2 linked regions of the Homo sapiens genome follow. The protein of the gene in region 1 purifies or fractionates together with the protein of each later gene. This does not show direct contact. Each region holds a gene or a part of one and is shown in the gene's direction. Other genes may lie near its edges.

Region 1 (3,655 bases):
TATAGTGAAACCCTGTGTCTACTAAAAATAAAAAAATTAGCCGGGCATGGTGGCGTGCACCTGTAGTCCCAGCTACTCAGGAGGCTGAGACAGGAGAATTGCTTGAACCCAGGAGGCAGAGGTTGCAGTGAGCCAAGATCACACCACTGCACTCCAGCCAAGGCAACACAGTGAGACTCTGTCTAAAAAAAAAAAAAATTTAGTATAGTGCCTGGCACACAATAGGTAATTTTTGTACTTACTAGTCTTATTGTTTACTTTTTATTACAGATTTTGAGATCAGGAGTGAGAACGAGGTAAATCCCAAGCAAGAGATTAGTGAAGATGTACAATTTGGGACTACATCTGAAAGACCTGCTGAGAATGCTGAGGAAAATCCTGAAAGTGAAGAGGGCTTTGAAAGCGGAGATAGGTCAGAAAGACAATGGGGAGATTTAACAGCAGAAGAGTGGGTAAGCTATCCTCTCCAACCAGTCACTGATCTACTTGTCCACAAAGAAGTCCACACAGGCATCCGCTATCATATATGTTCTCATTGTGGAAAGGCCTTCAGTCAGATCTCAGACCTTAATCGACATCAGAAGACCCACACTGGAGACAGACCCTATAAATGTTATGAATGTGGAAAAGGCTTCAGTCGCAGCTCACACCTTATTCAGCATCAAAGAACACATACTGGGGAGAGGCCTTATGACTGTAACGAGTGTGGGAAAAGTTTTGGAAGAAGTTCTCACCTGATTCAGCATCAGACAATCCACACTGGAGAGAAGCCTCACAAATGTAATGAGTGTGGAAAAAGTTTCTGCCGTCTCTCTCACCTAATCCAACACCAAAGGACCCACAGTGGTGAGAAACCCTATGAGTGTGAGGAGTGTGGGAAAAGCTTCAGCCGGAGCTCTCACCTAGCTCAGCACCAGAGGACCCACACGGGTGAGAAACCTTATGAATGTAACGAATGTGGCCGAGGCTTCAGTGAGAGATCTGATCTCATCAAACACTATCGAGTCCACACAGGGGAGAGGCCCTACAAGTGTGATGAGTGTGGGAAGAATTTCAGTCAGAACTCCGACCTTGTGCGTCATCGCAGAGCCCACACGGGAGAGAAGCCATACCACTGTAACGAATGTGGGGAAAATTTCAGCCGCATCTCACACTTGGTTCAGCACCAGAGAACTCACACTGGAGAGAAGCCATATGAATGCAATGCTTGTGGGAAAAGCTTCAGCCGGAGCTCTCATCTCATCACACACCAGAAAATTCACACTGGAGAGAAGCCTTATGAGTGTAATGAGTGTTGGCGAAGCTTTGGTGAAAGGTCAGATCTAATTAAACATCAGAGAACCCACACAGGGGAGAAGCCCTACGAGTGTGTGCAGTGTGGGAAAGGTTTCACCCAGAGCTCCAACCTCATCACACATCAAAGAGTTCACACGGGAGAGAAACCTTATGAATGTACCGAATGTGAGAAGAGTTTCAGCAGGAGCTCAGCTCTTATTAAACATAAGAGAGTTCATACGGACTAAGCTGTAATTATGATGGCTGAGAAATGATTCATTTGAAGATACAATTTTATTTGATATCAATGAACGCCCTCAAGACTGAGCTGCTTTTATCATACTCTCCTAGTTGTGGGCCACGATTTAAACCATCAGAGATGACAAGCCATTTGAAATTCTGACCCTCAGCTTTGGGAATGTTATCTCCTCCAAAATGGTGATTTTTATTCACTCAATGGGTTACTTCATTAAAAGCAGCCCCACAAGTAACTGGAAATCTGAAGACCAGGGGACAAATGCTGGTGAATGCTTAGGCCTGGAAATGGAGTAAATCTTTCAATGTTATTTTCTCCCATCCTTGGCCCAAGGAACTATGCTAAGTGAAACGTGGGACTGTAATAGGGTGGTAATGGCTGCTTTGGAAAAAGGCAACTAGAGACTCTGCCTAAATTGCCACACCTATTCACACACCATAGTAGTTGGGCACACACATCTTCCCTTCCAAAGGGCTTTTTCCTTGAGTTGCTCATGCATTTGTATCTTTTCCATCTTCCTGAGGGCAAGATTTTGCACGATGAAGGCAATGATTGTAACTTTTCTCCTTCTCATTGTTTCTAATTAGCTCCTTTAAAGCTTGCATCTTTGTGAAGGCTAACTGAAGATACGGTTGGAAAGGAAAAATGAGACACAGGTTTGGGGACCAAGGACCCATCAATGATGGTGACTTTAGCAGAAGATGCCCACAGTTATTACTGCCATTAATCAGATTTATGAATTTTCTTTGGGGATCACTATAGGGAATATTGTATAGAAAATATCTTCAAGAAAAGATAGGACCATCAGTGACAGTTAAGTGTAAGGAGCAAGTGGAATTGAGTCCTTCAGGGAAGGAACCACAGAGTCCCTTCCCAAGGAATGTAGGTCGTTTCTGTGTTCTTTCCCTTCTAATCTTTAAGATCAACTCTTCCTATCCTGCTAACTCTAAGATTTGATAAGGGCCACATCCCAGTGTTTATCTTAGCTTGCATCAGGGCATGTGTATGTACAGTAATGTGTATTCCTGTGGTTTTTCTAATAGAAACTGAATTTACAGAGACTTAGCATGTTCTTGGGTGATGTGAGTCATGTGACAGAAGTACAGACATAACTCCAATGTGAGAAATGTCCTTTTTTCATTATGGAAAATAATTTAAACACTAGTGCTTTAGTGTGCACTCTCCTGTAAGGTCTGTCTTTGTACAGAGCTAAGCACTTGTTTGTATGTGTTTGTCAATTGTGGAAGATAATGACCAGACAAATAGGTCGATTGTCCTATTCTCAGAATGAATTATCTTCTATGGTAATGAAGAACTCTTTGGCTTAGTCAGAAGGAATTAACGAACCTCGGTAGGAATGTATTTCCATCCTCCCACCCTACAGATATAAGAGGTTAAAATAACAGTTCGCCCAATTTAAGCCCAGTAGTGTCAGTTTTCCTAATCTCAGTCCAGGTAGGAATTAAGAAATATCTCAAGTGTTGATGCTATCCAAGCATGTTGGGGTGGAAGGGAATTGGTGCCCAGAAAATGGGACTGGAGTGAGGAATATCTTTTCTTTTGAGAGTACCCCCAGTTTATTTCTACTGTGCTTTATTGCTACTGTTCTTTATTGTGAATGTTGTAACATTTTAAAAATGTTTTGCCATAGCTTTTTAGGACTTGGTGTTAAAGGAGCCAGTGGTCTCTCTGGGTGGGTACTATAATGAGTTATTGTGACCCACAGCTGTGTGGGACCACATCACTTGTTAATAACACAACCTTTAAAGTAACCCATCTTCCAGGGGGGTTCCTTCATGTTGCCACTCCTTTTTAAGGACAAACTCAGGCAAGGAGCATGTTTTTTTGTTATTTACAAAATCTAGCAGACTGTGGGTATCCATATTTTAATTGTCGGGTGACACATGTTCTTGGTAACTAAACTCAAATATGTCTTTTCTCATATATGTTGCTGATGGTTTTAATAAATGTCAAAGTTCTCCTGTTGCTTCTGTGAGCCACTATGGGTATCAGCTTGGGAGTGGCCATAGATGACCGCATTTCCATGACCTAACTGTATTTCACCCCCTTTTCCTTCCCTACTGTTCTTGCCCCACCCCAACCAGTTCCTGCTGCTGCTTTTGG
Region 2 (3,655 bases), on another chromosome or scaffold:
TTTTATACACATTTTCCATTTCTGTGACCTTCAGTATTTCAGTCTGGATTTTCTTTGGACCTATCTTTCAGTTTACTAATTGTTTCTTTAGCTAGATTCTAATCTGATCTTAAACCCATCCATTGAGTTCTAAATTTCAGTTACTGTATATTTTCAGTTCTAGAATATTGATTTAATTCTTTTGCCAAAATTTTCTACCTAGTCATTTATTTTAGATATATTAATTATAGAGTATTTATTTCCGCAAAGTTCATGTCTGATGATTACAATATTTGGATCACCTGAGGATCTCTCTATAGTTATTAAAAACCAAAAAGAAAAAAGAATTCTTGTCTATTGTGTGTTCTAGTTAATTTTCATTGAGTACCAGATACTGAGTATACAAAATTAATGTGATCCTTTGAGTCTCTGGGTGATGTTTTCTTCCTCCAGAGAGAATTTACTTTTGCTTCTGGCACGTCTAGTGCTAGGAACAAATCCTACAAATCCAGTCAAGGAATGAGATGTTTCAAAGCTGGCTTCAGTCTTTGTGAGAGTTTGTCTAATTAAGTATTATCCTTCCTGAAAAGAATCTTAACTGAAAGCTGGTGTGATTACCAAGCCTCTCCCGTCTTAGTGGGCCCTAAATTTCCATTTGTGTCCTTTCTTCCCTGTGAGAATGCCTAAGATTCTTTTTTAGCATCTAAGTCTTTTAGTCATAACTTTCTGTTCTGCTTCTCAGCCTAACAAGCTTTGCTTTGGAACTGACAAATGCCTTGAAGTAAAAAGTGATGCCAAATATCAGGCTTACCTCTCTGGGTTTCCCTTCTTTCTGGGGTCTTGGTTGAACAAGTCCTTATTGCATTGATAGCTCTATAATATAGCCTTCAAATAATTGTTTGTATAATATTTGGTCTAGGTATTTCATCAGTTCAAACCACATGAAATTTTCTCTTGTCGTATGTCAAAATGGCTGAATATTGGCAATATCGTACGCTTCAGTCAAAATTATTCTCAATGAGAGGGTTAATCTGAAAGAAACTATTCCACTATTGCTAGAAGCTGAATTCTCAGAATCTAGGGTTAACGTAACCAAATGCTATTGGAACATTGGATAAGTGTCACAAAGATGTCTAATACATACATTCACATATAACATATATATTCATCAAATAATATTTTTCCTGTGGAACAAGATACGCTTCTTATTTCCAAGTCAAGTTCAGATAGTAAGTCAGTAATAGCATTTAAAAACGTTATATCTGGCCAGGTGCAGTGGCTTACACCTGTAATCCCAGCACTTTGGGAGGCTGAAGCGGGAGGATCACCTGAAGTCAGGAGTTCCAGACCGGCCTGGCCAACAGGGCAAAACCCCGCCTCTAGTAAAAATACACAAAAACTAGGTGGGCATGGTGGCATGCGCCTGTAATCCCAGCTACTCAGGAGGCTGAGGCAAGAGAATTGCTTGAACCCAGAAGGCAGAGGTTGTAGTGAGCTGAGATCGCGCCACTGCACTCCAGCCTGGGCGACAGAGCAGGACTCCATCTCAAAAAAAAAACATAGAAATAAAAATAAAAGTCCGGGTGCGGTGGTTCACACCTGTAATCCCAGCACTTTGGGAGGCCAAGGTGGGCGGATCACGAGGTCAGGAGATGGAGACCATCCTGGCTAACACGGTGAAACCTCGTCTCTACTAAAAAAACAAAAAAATTAGCCAGGCGTGGTGGCGGGTGCCTGTAGTCCCAGCTACTCTGGAGGCTGAGGCAGGAGAATGGCATGAACCCGGGAGGCGGAGCTTGCAATGAGCCGAGCTCGTGCCACTGCACTCCAGCCTGGGCGACAGAGTGAGACTCTGTCTCAAAATAAGTAAAATAAAATATAAAAAAAATTAAAACTTTCAATTTTATATAAACATTGTAGAAACAAATGGATTTGCATACAAATTCTCAGAGATTTTTGTACCAGAAATCTCAGTGTAATGAAAAAGTATCTGTGTACCTGAAAATATTATTGCTAGAAAACTGTCTGAAAACAATTTGTGACTCATCTTCCTCTTGTTTCTGAAGGATTGCTTATGGATGCCCAAATGCGTTAAGTTCGGATGGTTTCTGCCCTATACTCCAACAGATAATGAGTATGGTGCTTGGAAGCGCCATTACATTGCTTGTGTGTCCCACTTAGACTGGCTGACACCTAGGGAGGCTGCTGCTACTTATGGGACGCTGAATGAACCCAAAACAGAAGATGAGGAACTACTGGAGAGACAAAGAGAAAAGTGCCTGAGGAAAAGAATTTGGGAGAAAATTGCACTACGTAAGAGTAAGTAGCATTTTAAACCTTTATATCTTAGGTAAATATTGTAGACACAAATGGATTCACATACAAATTCCCACAGAGGACAGCCCTGTCTTTCGGAATACTCTGAGTGGCAGTCTTAAGTATTTTCCAGATGAGCTTTTTTCCGTACTGTATATTTCAAGTTAATTGATGAGAAAAACAAAGATTTCAGACAAAATACATAAGGTTAAATATCAGTGCTTCCATTGCTATTCTGGCTCCTCTCAGGCTTATAAGACCAAAAACAAAGAGGATAAAGATGTTTGAACATGGGGAAAAAAGCAAACAAATAGGTTCAAAACAGAGGAATTGGGAGTGATGAAAAGAGGAGGAGAAATGCAAGTGAAAATGGAAGCAGGGAAAATGGCATTTAAAAAGGGAGAAAGAGGACAGCTCTTTCCGCTCTTTTTAAAGCCTCTTTCAGTTAAGCCCCCTATTTATTTATTTATTTATTTTATTTTTGAGACAGGGTCTCACTGTCACCCAGGCTGTGCAGTAGTATGATCTCTGGCTCACTGCAGCCTCGATTTCTGAGGCTCAAGTGATCCTCCCACCTCAGCCTCCTGAGTAGCTGGGGCCACAGGTGCACACCACCATGCCTTGCTAATTTTTTGTATTTTTGTAGAGATGGGGTTTCTCCATGTTGGCCAGGCTGGTCCCGAATTCCTGGGCTCAAGTGACCCGCCCACCCTGGCCTCCCAAGGTGCTGGGATTACAGGCAGAGCCACGGCGCCCAGCCTCAGCTAGGCCTTATGCTTTATGCAGTGTGTAAAAGAAAACAGCAAAACTGATTAGAGTTCTCCCATGTTTTCTTCCCACTAACCCTCTGGTGAGATCGTGACAAATAAGAAATTGCTTGAAGGCAAGAAGAAGGGCACAAATGAATGTGACACCTATCAATTGATTAACTGGTCCCCACTAGAAAAGGGTTGCTTGTTTGCTTGTTCTCTGAGCTTTGTTTCTTGACCTGAAATGACCGGTAGCTCACAGCCACAGTGCCAAGAGGATGAGAAATCCAAACCGAGTGCATGAAAATGGCTGTAATTATTGTCATTTGGAACCTTGCCCTGGTACAGCTTTATTTTTGATGCCTTTATCTGTGTGGACTTGGCTGGGAGAAGTATGAAGTAATCAGCCCCGCCTGCTGTTCTTTGTTTTTCAGAGGAGTTATTCAAAGTTCGACCCCCTTGGGTGAGTGGAACTTGCTGCTCTAGCGTGCTAAAGCCCAGATGCCAACCACGCCTCTCCCAGACTGTAAGGGAGCGAGTGGGATTACATGAAGCTTTGGAGAAACAGCTTGTTTTGACATCGTTAGAAACCTTGCCCAAGCGGTAAGCAA

Evidence for each region. The genes of interacting proteins can lie anywhere in the genome.
Region 2: the proteins of ZNF436 (region 1) and ECT2L purify together in Homo sapiens (affinity purification with mass spectrometry; one large-scale study listed by BioGRID and IntAct). This does not show direct contact.

The regions. Positions count from the first base shown.
Region 1 is NC_000001.11:23,359,837-23,363,491, reverse strand, and holds part of ZNF436 (zinc finger protein 436), read left to right. Parts: intron 1-270; coding exon 271-1,523; 3' UTR 1,524-3,655. UniProt on the Homo sapiens protein: May be a transcriptional repressor.
Region 2 is NC_000006.12:138,840,934-138,844,588, forward strand, and holds part of ECT2L (epithelial cell-transforming sequence 2 oncogene-like), read left to right. Parts: intron 1-2,045; coding exon 2,046-2,298; intron 2,299-3,478; coding exon 3,479-3,647; intron 3,648-3,655.